2 separate regions of the Homo sapiens genome follow, and region 1 is linked to region 2. A link means that fine-mapping ties the variant in region 2 to the expression of a gene that starts in the linked region. Tissue or cell type: cartilage. Region 2 holds a variant in brackets; the other region holds the start of a gene. All regions are shown on one strand. Distances are from middle to middle.

What was found. PIP is the estimated chance that this variant, and not a neighbour inherited with it, causes the effect.
Region 1: TIMM10 starts here. The variant in region 2 is fine-mapped to the expression of TIMM10 in cartilage (Steinberg 2020, PIP 0.95).

Annotation. Positions count from the first base shown.
Region 1 is chr11:57,525,934-57,534,016 of GRCh38, reverse strand. TIMM10 (translocase of inner mitochondrial membrane 10) reads left to right here and starts at 3,263. Exons shown (of 3, transcript NM_012456.3): 1 at 3,263-3,359; 2 at 3,783-3,898; 3 at 5,099-5,553. The coding sequence starts at 3,828. The coding sequence ends at 5,300. It also overlaps the pseudogene RN7SL605P. RefSeq lists enhancers at 3,084-3,263, 7,718-8,083.
Region 2 is chr11:57,488,937-57,497,039 of GRCh38, reverse strand. It overlaps SLC43A1 (solute carrier family 43 member 1), which reads left to right. Exons shown (of 15, transcript NM_003627.6): 7 at 876-1,009; 8 at 2,869-3,047; 9 at 5,178-5,324; 10 at 5,414-5,449; 11 at 5,678-5,816; 12 at 7,648-7,789; 13 at 8,051-8,103. Among named protein-coding and RNA genes, the nearest start is that of SLC43A1, 23 kb to the left of the region's middle. RefSeq lists enhancers at 2,606-3,805, 7,049-7,549. The variant G/TTG (reference allele first, on the strand shown) is at 4,305.

The DNA of each region.
Region 1 (8,083 bases), 37 kb before region 2:
TTGCACTCAAGCCTGGGTGACAAGGCAAGATCCTGCCTCAAAAATCCTAAGTAAAAATAAAAATAAATTTGCCCCAGTGAAAGTTTAAAAATGAAAAAGAATGAAAACAATGATTTATTTTTATTGAGCATCTACCATGGACTAGGTACTTTACTTACACAATCTTTTATATAAATATTTTTCTTTCTTTCTTTATGGCCAGCTCTTACTCATACTTGTATAATCTTATTTGTTTTCTTTTTTGTAGAGATTTTTAAAACTTTTTATTTAGAAATAATTATAGTTTCACAGGAAGTTGCATTAATAGTACAGAGAGGTCCTGTACGCCCTTTACCAACTTCCACTAAAGGTTAAATCTAACATAACTATATTCAATATCAAAGCCAGATAATTTATATTGGTACAATGTGTGTGTGTAGTAGTTCTATGACTTTTTTTTTCTTTCTTTTTTTTTTTTAGACCGAGTCTTGCTCTGTCGCCCAAGCTGGAGTGCAGTGGCACAATCTCGGCTCACTGCAACTTCTGCCTCCCGCCTCCCGGGTTCAAGCGATTCTCCTGTCTCGCCCTCCTGAGTAGCTGGGACTATAGGCGCATGCCACCACACCCGGCTGATTTTTTTTATTTTAGTAGAGACGGGGTTTCACCATGTTAACCAGGATGGTCTCGATCTCCTGACCTCGTGATCCACCCGCCTCGGCCTCCCAAAGTGTTGGGATTACAGGTGTGAGCCACCGCGCCTGGCTTTTTTTTTTTTTTTGAGACGGAGTCTCACTCTGTCGCCTGGGCTGGAGTGCAGTGGCACGATCTCGGCTCACTGCAACCTCCACCTCCCGGGTTCAAACGATTCTCCTGCCTCAGGCTCCTGAGTAGCTGGGGTTACAGGTGCCCGCCACTACCCCCAGCTAATTTTTTGTATTTTTAGTAGAGACGGAGTTTCACCAACAAGGCTGGTCTCGAACTCCTACCTTGTGATTCGCTCGCCTGGGCCTCCCACAGTGCTGGGATTACAGGCGTGAGCCACCGCACCCTGCCAGTTCTATGACATCTTATCACCTGTGTAGATTCTTGTAACCACCACCACAATCAGGATACAGAATTATCCATCAACACAAAGATCTCTCTTGTGCTACCCTTTACAGGTACACTTCTATCTCCCCATCAACCCTAACACTAGACAATCAGAAATCTCTTCTCCATCTCTATAATTTTGTGATTTTGAGAATGTTACTTAAATGAAATCATACAGTATGCAACCTTTCATAAGGCCCAGTAGATATTGCAAGATTCCTCTTGTAAGAAACCATCTCCTTTTCCCACGCAGTTTCTTAACTTTCCATAATGTTTCTTTTTTGCGGGGAGTGGGGGGTCGGAGTTTCACTCTTGTTGCCCAGGCTGGAGTGCAATGGTGCGATCTTGGCTCACTGCAACCTCTGCCTCCCGGGTTCAAGTGTTTCTCCTGCCTTAGCCTCCTGCTTAGCCTCTTGAGTAGCTGGGATTACAAGCACCCGTCACCACACCGGGCTACTTTTTTGTATTTTTAGTAGAGATGGGGTTTCACCAAGTTGGCCAGGCTGGTCTCGAACTCCTGACCTCAGGTGATCCACCCACCTCAGCCTCCCAAAGTGCTGGGATTACAGGCGTGAGCCACTGCACCCGGCCAATGTTGACTATATTTTCAAAGGCAAAAACCAAGGCAAGATATGTCCATCTGTACAAGAGTATCATAGCAGCATTATTGCATAATAGGCAAAAACTGGAAACAATCCAAACATCCACCAACGGGAGAATGGATAGATGAATTGTGGCATACTCATACAATCAAACACTAGACAGCAATAAAACAGAAGGAATAACAGATGCACACAACAATATGGAGGAAATCTTACAGGTACATTGAGCTAAAGAAGTCAGGCACAAAATAGAAAATAATGTATAATTCCATTTACACGAAGTTCAAGAACAAGGAAAACTAATTGATGGTGATAGAGGTCAGAATAGTGGTTAACTTCGAGAGGGGGTATTGATGGGGAAGGAACACAAGATAACTTTTTGGGGTGCAGGAAGTATTTTATATCTTGATCTGGATGGCGGTTATACAAATGTACATATATAGATACATATATATTTAATTAAGCTTAACATTCGTGTATTTTATGCACTTTATGAATGTTATACCCCAATCTTTAAAAATCAGGGCACAAGTTTGGCAAAGATGAGTCTTCAAAGCAGTAGAAAGGTCAATTGTTTAAAATTAGGATGGTCTTGGACAATTAGGGAAGCTTATGATGACCACACAGAAAATGTCTAGCCCACCTTTTCCAATGGGCAATGTGCCCTTGCGTCATTAATTTACATCTTGTAAATTTATTTTACCAGGAAATTGTGTGACAAATCAAGGGACTGAGTATTGTTTCCTTGTTTCCTTCTTTTTAGTGGGGAATGAGTGAATGGTGCAGTTTGAAGAACACATTAAGTCTTGAAAGTTGGAAAGTTCACCAGTACCCTTCTTTCCCTCACCCAAGATTAGCCCTGGTGGCAGCCGAAATTGCTTTTATTATCTCTTTGTGGCTGAGGACCTCTAACTGTTGAAGAAAACATATTTTACACGTCTTGTCTTTCTGCGAACAGGAAGCCTATCTCGCTTATCTTTGCAACCCCAGACGGGGCTTAGTGTGACCTACACACAGCAGTAATCGCACAACGTCCCGTGGAGCACTGCTTCTCAAATTTGGCTGTACATACGAATCACCTGGGGAATTTTAAATTGTATTGCTGCCTGAGGAATTTTAAACTGTACTCCCAGAGATTCTGATTTAATTGAAATGAGGTGAGTCCTGGGCACTGGGATGTTTAAAAACGTTCCAGGTGATTTTAACGCGAAACAAAAACAGAACCGCTGTTTGGGGGCGTTCTTCCTTCTCCACGCCTGATTTGCGCACAGGAGTCGGCTGTCTGGAACGGGGGTGAGGTTCACAGGTGTCTGTCGCCACGCCTCTTCCTACAGAACCAATAAACTGAAGCCGCTCGGTGACATCCCAAAGGACTTGAATTCTGATCGGGCTGCAGACGCTCTGCACCCCGCCCAAGCTTCTATGGTACTTTGGTGTCCTCTCTAGCACTGGCAAGTCGCCTTCCTCTTCGCCCGGCGCCAGCCGCTCCCTCTCTATGATCGCCGAGTTCCCGGCGCCGTCTCGTTGGTATTTAATTCCGGAAGCGAGTTTGAATCAAAGAAGAGGCGGGACTTTCCTCCCGGAAGTAACCCACGTGCTTCCGCTGGAGCCTCTCGGGAGGCGGGTAACGTTATAGTATTTGTCAGAAGTTGGGGTCTCCGTGGGCATTGTGATCCGTCCCAGGCAGTGGTAAGTGACACATGACCTCTGAATTCAATGTGGCCCTGATGATGGCGTCGCCATTTCAGAGGTGTAGCCTTTGGGCTGGGTCCCGGTCGCCTCTGTTCAGCGTATGATCCCATTCCCAGGGCCCTGGAGGTTCAGGTTCGTGGGTTAGAGAGTTCTCCTCCGGTCCTCGATCTCCTGAATAGAGGTGACCTCCAGGAACTGGGGCATCAGAGATCCGGGGCTCGATTTCCAGGCTCGCCATAGACGTCCTGTGCGACCTTGGGCTAGGCCTCAGTTTCCACATCCGTGAAATGGGGTGGTTAAGCTCACTGAGGTTAGTGGCCCGTGGTGGTCTGGCGCCCTGTGAGTCCTCTGTATCCTCTAGCCCCAGGGGTAGGAGAGTGAACGGCGGCGGTGGGTGCTGATGGTGATGTCTGCTCCCAGGATTAGGAGGCCAGAAGGAGATCCCTTCCACGGTGCTAGGCTGAGATGGATCCTCTCAGGGCCCAACAGCTGGCTGCGGAGCTGGAGGTGGAGATGATGGCCGATATGTACAACAGGTAAAGAGAACTATGTGCTACCCTGTCTTGGAAAATAAGTCTTGGTCACCCTTATCGAAGGTGAATGACTTATGACAAATTCCTTCCTGAATGTAGGGGAGCCTGAGGCCCATGCTTACCCTCCCCACACCCACCTTCAAGGTTGATCCTAATGTAGATGCAGTAAAGGGTCACTAGAATGAGTTGGGCATTTAGATGGGGATGGAACTGGCAATGCAGGAGCCAAGCAGGAAGAGAAACTCCAATCCAGGCTCTGGTTAGGTTCCAAGAAAAGCTGAGTATTTGCCTCTTGACAAATAGCACATAGCCAGCCCATTTAGTAGTTAACATTTTAAAACCCTTTATTCTGTGTCAGGCACTTGTTAATCTTCAAAATAATCCAGTGGGTTAATTTTATTAGTCCCGTCTTAAAATGAGGAAATTGATGATTCTAGAGGTTAAGTAACTTCCTTAGGGTCGGCAGCTGGTCAGTAACAATGCCAGAACTAGCACCTCAGTCTGATTCTGCAACTAGTGCTCATAACCATTTGGCAAATTTGGGAACAAATCCTGGCTCCACCAATCACCAGCAGTATAATTGGACATGTTACTTGCACTGTTTGACAATTGGTTTCCTCATTATGAAGAAGACATAATGATACCTACCTCATAGGACATCATAAATATTAAATCTAAAAATATATGAAAGCCCTTAGCCTCAAGCCCAACACTTAGTGAAATGTCTGCTATTTTTATTGGCTTAAGCTCTCTTGATTGGTTGGTTTATCCTGAAGGCTATAAATTAGAAGGATTTTTAAGTGTAGACTGTGAGGTCAGATGACCTGGCTTCATAACCCAGCTCTGTGTGATCCTTAGAAAATTACTGAGCCTCTGTTTGCCTTAATTTCCTCATCTGTAAAATGGGGATACATGTCTCTTAGGGTTATTGTAAGCATTGCATAACAGAATGCAGGTAAAGCACTTAGCAGGATGCCTGGCATGTAGCCAGTCCTCAACAAATGGTTTCTACTTAGTTAGTCATATACATGGACTTAGACAAGTTTCCTACTTGCAAGGACCTTCCAGTGGTTGAGGTGTAAACTGAGGATTTACACTGCTTTCTTGGGGGAGGTGAAATCAATATAGCAGGGCTGGAATGGTCAAGGTTCCTGGGATGTCACAGGATGCTGCTGACATGACCTTGCCCCTCCCTCCCTCCAGAATGACCAGTGCCTGCCACCGGAAGTGTGTGCCTCCTCACTACAAGGAAGCAGAGCTCTCCAAGGGCGAGTCTGTGTGCCTGGACCGATGTGTCTCTAAGTACCTGGACATCCATGAGCGGATGGGCAAAAAGTTGACAGAGTTGTCTATGCAGGATGAAGAGCTGATGAAGAGGGTGCAGCAGAGCTCTGGGCCTGCATGAGGTCCCTGTCAGTATACACCCTGGGGTGTACCCCACCCCTTCCCACTTTAATAAACGTGCTCCCTGTTGGGTGTCATCTGTGAAGACTGCCAGGCCTAGGCTCTCTGTAGAGAGTCTTCAAGATCCCGGAGTGGTAGCGCTGTCTCCTGGTGAAGGAGTATTTGTCACACTGGAATGTGACTGTGTGTGTATGTATGTGTATATATATATATATATATATATATATATATATAAACAAGTTTGTTGACACCTACTATGTGCAAAGCAGTGTGCTTGGCATTTGAGAGTAAAGAAAACAGACACAGCCCCTACCAGCAGAGGGAGATTAATGAGTGTTTAAGAGTAAGACAGGCCGGGCAAGGTGGCTCATGCCTGTAATCTCAGCACTTTGGGAGGCTGAGGTGGGTGGATCACTTGAGGTCAGGAGTTCAAGACCAGCCTGGCCAACATGGCAAAACCCCGTCTCTACTAAAAATACAAAAATTAGCTGGGTGTAGTGGCGGGTGCCTGTAATCCCAGCTACTCAGGAGGCTGAGGCAGGAGAATCGCTTGAACCCAGGAGGCGGAGGTTGCATGAGCTGAGATTGTGCCACTGTCCTCCAGCCTGGGCAACAGAGTGAGACTCCATCTCAAAAAAAAGTAAGACAGCTTAGGTTTGCCTGCTGTCTGCTGCTTTTTGTGTGGCCCTGCACCTGTCACTTTTGTGTGCTTTAGCTTCCGCATCTGTAAAATAGGGTTAGCCCCCTGACTAATCCTGTTTTACAGATGAGCAAGCTGAGGATTTAAGAAGTAAGTTGCTTGCTGGAGCAAGCTTGCTGGAGGTCACACAAGCAGAACAATACCATGGAGGCCAGACCTGACTGCTGCGTTTGCTGTCTCCAGATGGGACTGTGGTTGACACCAGTGCCACTGTGACAGCAGTACCTTCAAAGTGGGCCTTCCTGGTAGAAGTGTCTGGGATGTAACTAGGTCATTGGAGTAAAGGAGACAGAATAGAGGCAGTGAGTTTGGGGCTTGTGAGTGCAGGTTCAAGCCAGACTGCTTAACTTTGAGTTTCTACTGAAATTTTCTAGCAGTGTGATCTTGAGTAAGGCTTTTTAACTGCTCTGTGCCTCAATTACCCCATCATAAAATGGCAGTAAGGTTACCCACCTCATTAGGTAGTTGCAAAAATTAAACGTGTTAATAACCAAAGCACTTAGGAGAGTGCCTAGCATACATTGAGTATCCAATAACATTAGCTTTTTTCATTGCTAAGTTTGGTGGGAGGTGAAGATACCGGATGTACTGGAAAACTTCAAAGCCATTACTAGTCTTTAGGGTAGAAAGAAAGAAAGTTCCTTTCCAGGTACTGAAGTGCAGATTTTGGTCAACAGGTGGCGCCGTCTGCTCATGGTCAGCACTGCTGTGGACAATTCCGCACATTTTATCATTTGCCTATTCTTTGCTGGCCTTGTTCTTGAAAGAGAGGACAGGTGAGGAAAATCGATATTGTGCATACCCTCAGGTTTAGCAAGAAACATCAAGAATTCTCTGTTAGCACATAGCCAGAACATCTAGAAGGGGTGGTAGGAGTGGGGATTAGAGGTTCCAGCTGGAGGCAATGGCACTTGCAAAGGCTTTGTTGAAGTGGCGTAAGTGTGGAGGTGGAGCATTCAGGAAAGGAGAGCTTCAGCTTCAGTGTGGCTGGAGTGCTGGGTGTGAAGAGAGGTGAAGATGAGGCTTGGAGGCTGGGCAGATTTTGCTCCAAAAGAGCTTGGTGAACTGTGATAAGGAGTTTGGATTTTCTCCTACTAAGGACAACAGCAAACTATTGAAGAGTTTAAATCGTTCAGTGACAATGACACGTTTGCGTTTTGGTGGCTCACTCGAGCTGCCAGCCAGGTAGACAGTGGCAGAAGATGGAAGATAAAGCACTAAAGGGTGATGAGGCAGGAAGCCAGTGAGGAGAGAAAGGGGACGATGTGAGTGACAGTAAATCATTTGTTGGGTTGCTATTGTGTGCTAAGCTCTGTGCTAAATTCTTCACGTGTATTATTTCAGCTAATCCATCTAACAACTCTGTAAGGCAGGTACAATCGTTCCCAGCTGAAGAAGCTGAGGCTCTCAAAAGCTAGTAACTTGCCTAAGTTCATGCAGCATGCAAGTTGTCCAGCCAGGATTCTAACTTAGACACCAGAGGCCACTTTTAACCACTGCTCTAGGACTGGGGGAAATGGTCCCTAGTGAGATATGTGTCGAGTTTCATATTTCATTCAACAATATTGTTGGCCTGCTACATGTGAAGAGCTGTGGAAAGCGCCCAAAGTGAGTTAGATCCCTATGAGCAAGTGGGATGGGGGTGGAGTGGACAGTAGGAGGGCTGGAACACACATAAAAGGGTATAAGAAATAACAATTAGGCCGGCCAGGGGTGGTGGCTCACGCTTTTAATCCCAGCACTTTGGGAGGCCGAGGAGGGTGGATCACTTGAGGCCAGGAGTTTGAGACCAGCCCGGCCAACATGGTAAAACCCCATCTCTACTAAAAATGCAAAAATTAGCTGGGCTGGTGGTGCACGCCTGTAATCCCAGCTACTTGGGAGGCTGAGGCACGAGAATCACTTGAACCCAGGAGGCAGAGGTTACAGTGAACTGAGATTGCACCACTCTACTCCAGCCTGGGAGACAGAGTGTGACCCTGTCTCAAAAAAAGAAAACAAAACAAGTAGGTACTTTCTGCCATAGGGAGGATTCATAAACTGCTAGTCCTCAGGTGCATTTTTGCTTATCAGTTTTAAAAATC
Region 2 (8,103 bases):
TGGAGGGTGGGCAGTTCTCCCTTCTTTTCAACTGAAGTAGTGTTTGAAGAGCCAGATCTTACCTCCACACATTTGGGGGTGTGGCCCTTTGAAGCTCTGTCCTGCCCCTAGGGAGGAAAAGGCACCAAGGTCCAAGACTGCAGAGAAAAAGGTTTGAGCAGGAGCCTGAGGGGAGAGCAGACATTAATTATCCTGGTCAGATGGTATGGGGAGGACAAGAGGACAGATGGTGCATCAGCTTCTTCCATAAGAAGGGCTGACACATTTGCACAGAATCTCATTCAATTGAGAACTTACCTGCCCTGGGGTTGAGAGCCCTTGGGCAGAGCACTTGCACCTCCCTCTCCCCAACCCCCCCAGTTGTTGCACGTGGGAGGACCTGGGAAAGGTGAGAAAAGGCTGAGCATGAGCAGTCTGGGTTTGCCTTTTCCCCTGGGGAATGTGCCAGGAAGGGGCAGGATAAACACGATTAGGCCCGGTAAACCTAGAGCACTAAGTTTCCTTTGTACGTACTATGAAATGGACATTTTTGTGCGAACATGAACATGAATGTTTGTGGAGTCATAGGCAAAAATGTATGTATTTTTTTAAGATAATGGAAATTTCAGAGATATTTTGAGCCAGTGGCCAGCAACTTCAGGCTTTGTGGAGACTATTTCATAGCTCTCTAGGGGGCCTCAAGTGAAAAAGAAAAAGGAATGATGGGTCTTCTGAGTCTGACTCTAAACTTCTGGTCTTGGTTTCCTCATCTGCAAATTGGGCACAAGGACAAGGGGAGAAGAGAACTTCTTTAAGGCCTCTGAGGCCTGGGATCTACCTTGGTGGGGTCTGGGGCCAGGCAGTCTCCCCCACGGGCCTGCCCCCTCCTCTCACAGCTGATCTACGATGCCGGTGTGGCCTTCGTGGTCATCATGTTCACCTGGTCTGGCCTGGCCTGCCTTATCTTTCTGAACTGCACCCTCAACTGGCCCATCGAAGCCTTTCCTGCCCCTGAGGAAGTCAATTACACGTGAGTGGCTGGAGTGGGCAGAGACTCTCCCTGGGGCAGAGAGGGCTGTGGTGATATGATAGACGGAATTAACTTTGGATTCAGAGAGACCTCGGCTTGGACCTCTGCTTGGCAAATCGCTTGAGCCCTCCAAGCTCTGCTTTCTCATCTGTACTATGAGCCTGTTCCTACCTACCCACAGGTCGCTTTTGTTTGTTTGTTTGTTTAGAGGCAGTGTCTTGCTCTGTCACTCAGGCTGGAGTGTAGTGTCTTGGTCCTGGCTCACTGCAACCTAAAACTGCTGGGCTCAAGCGAACCTCTCCCTCTGCCTCCCGAGGAGCTGGGGTTACAGGCACACACCACCATGCCCAGTTAATTTTTTTATTTTTTGTAGAGACAGGGCTTACTGTGTTACCTAGGCTGGTTTTGAACTCCTGGCCTTAAGGGATCCTCCCCCCTTGCCCTTCCAAAGTGTCCGATTACAGGCGTGAGCCACTGTGCCCAGCCTCCCATGGGTGTTTTTAAGTAATACAGTTGGCACATAACAGGTGGTCAAAACATGGTAAATATTTATTTATTTATTTATTTATTTTTGAGACAGAGTCTCATTCTGTCGCCCAGGCTGGAGTGCAGTGGCATGATTTCAGTGAACTGCAACCTCTGCCTCCTGAATAGCTGGGATTACAGGCACGCGCCACCACACCCAGCTAATTTTTGTATTTTTTAGTGGAGACGGGGTTTCACCATGTTGGCCAGGCTGGTCTTGAACTCCTGGCCTCAAGTGATCCGCCTGGCTCAGCCTCCCAAAGTGCTGGGATTGCAGGCGTGAGCCACCATGCTCAGCTCATGGTAACTATTTATGTGGGTGCAAAAGTAATTGTGGTTTTTGCCATTAAAAGTAATGGGCCAGGCGCAGTGGGTCATGCCTATAATCCCAGCACTTTGGGAGGCCGAAGAGGGTGGATCGCCTGAGGTCGGGAGTTCTAGACCAGCCTGACCAACATGGAGAAACACCGTCTCTACTAAAAATACAAAATTAGCTGGGTGTGGTGGTGCATGCCTGTAATCCCAGCTAGTCAGGAGGCTGAGGCAGGAGAATCACTTGAACCCTAGAGGCTGAGGTTGCGGTGAGCCGAGATCGTGCCATTGCACTCCAGCCTGGGCAACAAGATCAAAAACTCCGTCTCAAAAAAAAAAAAAAAGTAATGACAAATACTGTTTTCATCCTTTCTGGGTTTGGAGGAGATCTGAGTAGGAGGCACCTCAGCAATGGCACTCGATGCCATGTGGTCCCAAAAAGAGGGACATAAAAGAATCAAGCACCCCATCTTTTGTGGAGCCACCTGAATGCCAACTTTTTCCAGCCCCCTGTCAGTTCAGCAGAGGCAAGAGGTGATACTCCACACCAAGCACATAAGGTGACATTACAGAACTGACAGTTATGCCAGGCACTGTACTTAGCCCCTATACCATCCTCAAACAGCTGTATGATGTAGATTGGGTATTAACCCCATTAATAACAAAAGTACAGGGAACAAAGTGACTTTCCAAAGGTCATGCCATTCAAAGGAGGGTGAATCTTAGGTTGGACGCAGGCTGTCTGACTCTGGAGTCTGAGGTGTTAATGCTGCCTCCTCCATGGGAACAGCCCAAGTGAAAAACAGCTGATCCACTCTTCATTTACTTGGCATCTGTGCTAAGCTGGTCCCTGAGCCAAGCTCTGAGCAACAGAAACAGAAGCTCTGCATTAGGAGCTTGTGAGCATGTCAATGCCGGGTAAAGGAGTGCTGGAAACCGCTGGGATGGCCGCCGAGCACTAGGCCGTTGAAGGTGGGCTCTGTGTGACTGGTTCCTCTACACTCTGGCCTGGCTGCCTGCAGGAAGAAGATCAAGCTGAGTGGGCTGGCCCTGGACCACAAGGTGACAGGTGACCTCTTCTACACCCATGTGACCACCATGGGCCAGAGGCTCAGCCAGAAGGCCCCCAGCCTGGAGGACGGTTCGGATGCCTTCATGTCACCCCAGGATGTTCGGGGCACCTCAGAAAACCTTCCTGAGAGTGAGTGTCTGGTCAAGGTGCCGGCCTTGGGGGATAGTGATGGTGGGTCCTCATATTCAGTGAGCACTCATGGTTGAGTATTTATTCGCACCCCTCTTCAGTCCTTACAACACCCCATGATGTAGGTGGGGCATGCTCCTCATTTACAGATGGGCACATCAAAGCTCAGCTAACGCTGGGAAGTTCAGATTCAGGGTTACCCTGCTGGATTCCTGGGATTGGGGAGGGAGGAGCTTCCAAAATGGGGACAAGGTCTCTGGGCCTGTCGGGTAGCTGGTTTCCTCAGGGCCCCTTGCAACCTCTGAGCTTATTGCATCAGGTGCAGCCAGGCCCGTGAGCCTCCTGGCAGGGGTCCTCCACACCTGGCTGTCTTTTGCCCCCTGCTGGTCACAGGAGGAGCTGCAGCACCTGCCTGGGCTGCTTCTCAGGAGGGTACATGAAGATCCCAGGACCGCCAGCTCCATGATAAGTGGAAGGAGCTCCTTGGAGTCAGGAGCGGGAGTTGAGGAGTTTGAGTCCTGCTCTCCAGTTATAGGCTATGTGACTTGTGTAGATCACCTAACCTTGCTCTTGATTTCCTTACCTCTTAAACTAGCACTAAAAGCACCCCACAAACTGTAAAGTTAGTTGTGATGATTGAATGACACCATGGGTGTGGAAGCTCTTTGTAAAGTGCAAAACGGTGTGCAGTTTGAGGGTGGTTACCCCCAGTGCCGATTCTCAGAGGGCAACATGGCTAAGGGCACGAGCTGGAGTTAGGCTGACCTGCTGCTTCCAGCCCTGTGAGCTTGAGCAAGTCATTTAACTTCCTGAGCTGCAGTTTCCTCATCAGTAAAATGTGATAAGGATAGGGTTGTTGTAAGATTTTATTAAATGGGGTAATAAATGTCAAGTATGTAGCCCATAGTGAGTGCTTCAGAGTTTTTTTCTTTTGTTTCTTTCCCCCCCGCCCCGAGATGGAGCCTTACTCTGTTGCCCAGGCTGGAGTGCAGTGGCATGATCTTGGCTCACTGCAACCTCCGCCTCCCGGGTTCAAGCAATTCTCCTGCCTCAGCCTCCCAAATAGCTGGGACTACAGGCGTGCACCACCATGCTCGGCTAATTTTTGTATCTTTAGTAGAGACGGGGTTTCACCATGTTGGCCAGGCTGGTCTCGAACTCCTGACCTCATGATGCTCCTGCCTCAGCCTCCGAAAGTTTTGGGATTACAAGTGTGAGCCACCGTGCCCTGCCAGGTTTTTTTTTTTTTTTTTTTTT[G/TTG]TAAAATAGAGACAGGGTATTGCTGTTGCCTGGGCTGGAGTGCGGTAGTGCAATCATAGTTCACTGCAGCCTTGACCTCCTGGGCTCAAGTGATCCTCCTGCCTCAGCCTCCTGAGTAGCTGGGAATACAGGTGTGCACAACCATGCCTGGCTTATTTTTTTATATATATATATATATATATATATATATATATATATACACAAAATTATATATATTATATTATTATATATTATATTATATATTATATTATTTTTTATATATAAATTATATATATATTTATATTATATTTTATATATATATATATTTTTTAGAGATAGGGTCTTGCTATGTTGACCACCAGGCTGGTCTTGAACTCCTGGGCTCAAGCAATCCTCCTGCCTCAGCCTCCTGAGTAGCTGGGAATACAGGTGTGCACCACCATGCCTGGCTTATTTCATATATATATATTTTTATATATATGTATATTTATATATATAAATATATATATAATTTCTGTATATAAATAAATAAATAAATATATATATATATTTTTAGAGATAGGGTCTTGCTATGTTGACCACCAGGTCTTGAACTCCTGGGCTCAAGTGATCCTCCTACCTCTGCCTTTCAAAGTGTTGGGATTACAGGCGTGAGCCATGGCACCTAACTGAGTTATTTTTACCACACGAAGCATAGGACATACATCCAAAAATGTTCTGAGCTGAGCAAGAGCCTGGAGGCAAGTGAATCTGAACTTTCCCGTCTTTGAAGAAACCAGTCTCTCTCCAAAGTCACATAGTTAGTGTCACTCCCCCCAAGAACTGCATGAGCTGGGACAATCAGAGGGCAGTGGAAGGTCTGGGGCTCAGGGGCGCCCCCTGCTGTCTCCCCAGGGTCTGTCCCCTTACGCAAGAGCCTCTGCTCCCCCACTTTCCTGTGGAGCCTCCTCACCATGGGCATGACCCAGCTGCGGATCATCTTCTACATGGCTGCTGTGAACAAGATGCTGGAGTACCTTGTGACTGGTGGCCAGGAGCATGGTGAGGCACCGCTGAGGCCCCTGGGGGTTGGGGGCACAGGCGGGTCACCCTGGCTGAGCTCCCCTCACCATACGTTTCCCTACCCACAGAGACAAATGAACAGCAACAAAAGGTGGCAGAGACAGGTAGGGCTATGAAAGCAGGGCCCTGGCTCACGCCCACCCCACTGCAACCCGCTTCTCAGGGGGCGGGACTCCTCTAGGCCTGGGCCCACCCAGGTAACCCTTTTGTGGGATGTAAGAGTCTGGGTTCAGAGGAAGGCTATTTTGGTGCTCTCTGGCCTCCGCTGGAAGGGGTGATAGTGTCCACTGAGTGCCAGTTCCTGACCCCACTGCCCTTCCCATCCTGCCCAGTTGGGTTCTACTCCTCCGTCTTCGGGGCCATGCAGCTGTTGTGCCTTCTCACCTGCCCCCTCATTGGCTACATCATGGACTGGCGGATCAAGGACTGCGTGGACGCCCCAACTCAGGGCACTGTCCTCGGAGATGCCAGGTGACCTGCCTGTACAGGGATGGTGACAGCAAGTGGTCAGGCAGTGCTTTTCATTTTCTCTGTGCGTTTACATCCAGCAACTTGTTGCTTTCTCCCAAGAACCCTAGGAGATCAGGGGTACCTCCCCATTTTACAGATGAGGAAACTGAGGCTAGGAAGGGACCTGGCTTGCTTAATAATAAGAATAGCTAATGCAGAGTGCTGACTGTGCACTTGGCACCTTGCCTTGTTTAGTCCTACAACACCTCTTTGAGGTAGATGCGTTAATATCTTCATTTTGCAGTTGAGGAAACCGAGGTACAGGGTTGCACAGTTAGGTCATTCACCCAAGATCACACAGCTTTCAGTGGCAGCCTCCAGAACCTGTGTTATAAGGGTACACGCTAAAGTCTTGTTAGGGCTAGAATAGGTAGAGTTGGTATATTAGATATTTATTGCTGTATAACAAATCACCCCAAGGCTTGGCATTTTAAAACAACAAACACTTCTCATCTCATACAGTTTCTGACAGTCAGAAATCAGGGAGAGACTCAGCCGGCTGATTCTGAGTCACAGTCTCTCATGAAGACATAGTCAGGCTGTCAGCCAGGGCTGCAGTCATCTGAAGGGCTGACTGGGGTTGGAGAATCTATGTCAGTTCAATTACCCCCATGGCCTCTCCATAGGGCTGCTCAGGACACAGCACCTGCTTTCCCTTGAGCAAGAGGGCTAAGCGACAGAGACCCCGTATCTTCTCTCACATAATCTCAGACGTAGCATACCATCACTTCTGTTACGTTCTATTATAGGCACAGAGCAACCCTGATATACTGTGGAAGGAGACTGGACAAAGCAGGGGAATACCAGGAGGCAGGATCCTTGAGGGCTGTCTTGTTGGCTGGAGACCACCATTGAGGGTTTTTTTTTTTTTTTTTATTGAGACAGTCTTGCTCTGTCGCCCAGGCTGGAGTGCAGTGGCACGATCTCAGCTCACTGCAACCTCTGCCTCCCAGGTTCAAGCGATTCTCCTGCCTCAGCCTCCCGAGTAGCTGGGATTCACCATGGAGTCTTGAACCCAGATTCTGTGACTGCTTTTGCTCTTTTTGTGTTCATCCAAACAGTCCCTGTTTATCCTAAGAGGATGGGAGAAAGAGACTGGGAGAGAAGGAAATCCAGTGGCCTCCCTCCCTGCTAGCAGAGCCTGGCCCTGGCACTGAGCCTTCCTCCTCTACCCTCTGCTCCTAATGGTGAGGGTCCCCTAGCAGGGCCCTTCTGTCCAGGACACATGGGCCGCCTGTCCTCACCCCAGCCTACTGACCTCTCTCCTGGGCTGGCCTCAGTGCCCTTGATTGTGCCGGAGAGAGGAAGCGCTGGACAGTCAGGCCAAGCTGCTGTCCCCAGGAGGGCATCTGCTTATGTCTAGGGCAGGGACACCTTCCTGAGGACTTCTGATGAGAGACGGTGTGAGAGCTTCCCACTTCCCACCTTCCTTCCCATCCTTGGTTCTCAAACCTTCAAGTGTGCATGAGAATCACTTAGTGGGGGATATTTGTCCAAATGCAGATTTGCAGATATCCCCGCTGAGATTCTGAGGGCCGAGATGAGGCCTGTGAATCTGCATGTTAAGAAAGCACCCGCTTTGATGCGTGTGTCATTGGGTAGGGGAGCAACACTTTGAGAAACATGGAGCTAGAGAACGTGGGTTTCTATGGGTTTCCCATAGAAACATGGATTTCTGTGTTTTCTGCTGCCCTGACATCGAAGGCACATCTGAAGGGGGAGGGGCCAGGCCAAGAACCAGGGAGTCCTGGGAACGTAGAGGCAGCAGCCAGTGACTTCCCGTACTCCTCAGGGACGGGGTTGCTACCAAATCCATCAGACCACGCTACTGCAAGATCCAAAAGCTCACCAATGCCATCAGTGCCTTCACCCTGACCAACCTGCTGCTTGTGGGTTTTGGCATCACCTGTCTCATCAACAACTTACACCTCCAGGTACCCACCTTCATCCTTCCCCTCTCCCTGCCTCCCGAGGCTCCTCCAAAGGGATGGTCCATCCAGCACCTGCCTTCCAGGAAGCGCAGTTCTGGTCTTCTGATCTGGATCTATTTTCCGGGTTCTCCAGGAAGTGTTTCTAGTAGATTGGGTTGGCGAGGGGGTGGGAATTGAGGCCCAGTTGGCCTCTTCGCCCTACCCCTCCTTCCTCCAGCCTCCACACACTCTCCTAACCTCTTCACTCTCTCTTTTTGGTTTTAGTTTGTGACCTTTGTCCTGCACACCATTGTTCGAGGTTTCTTCCACTCAGCCTG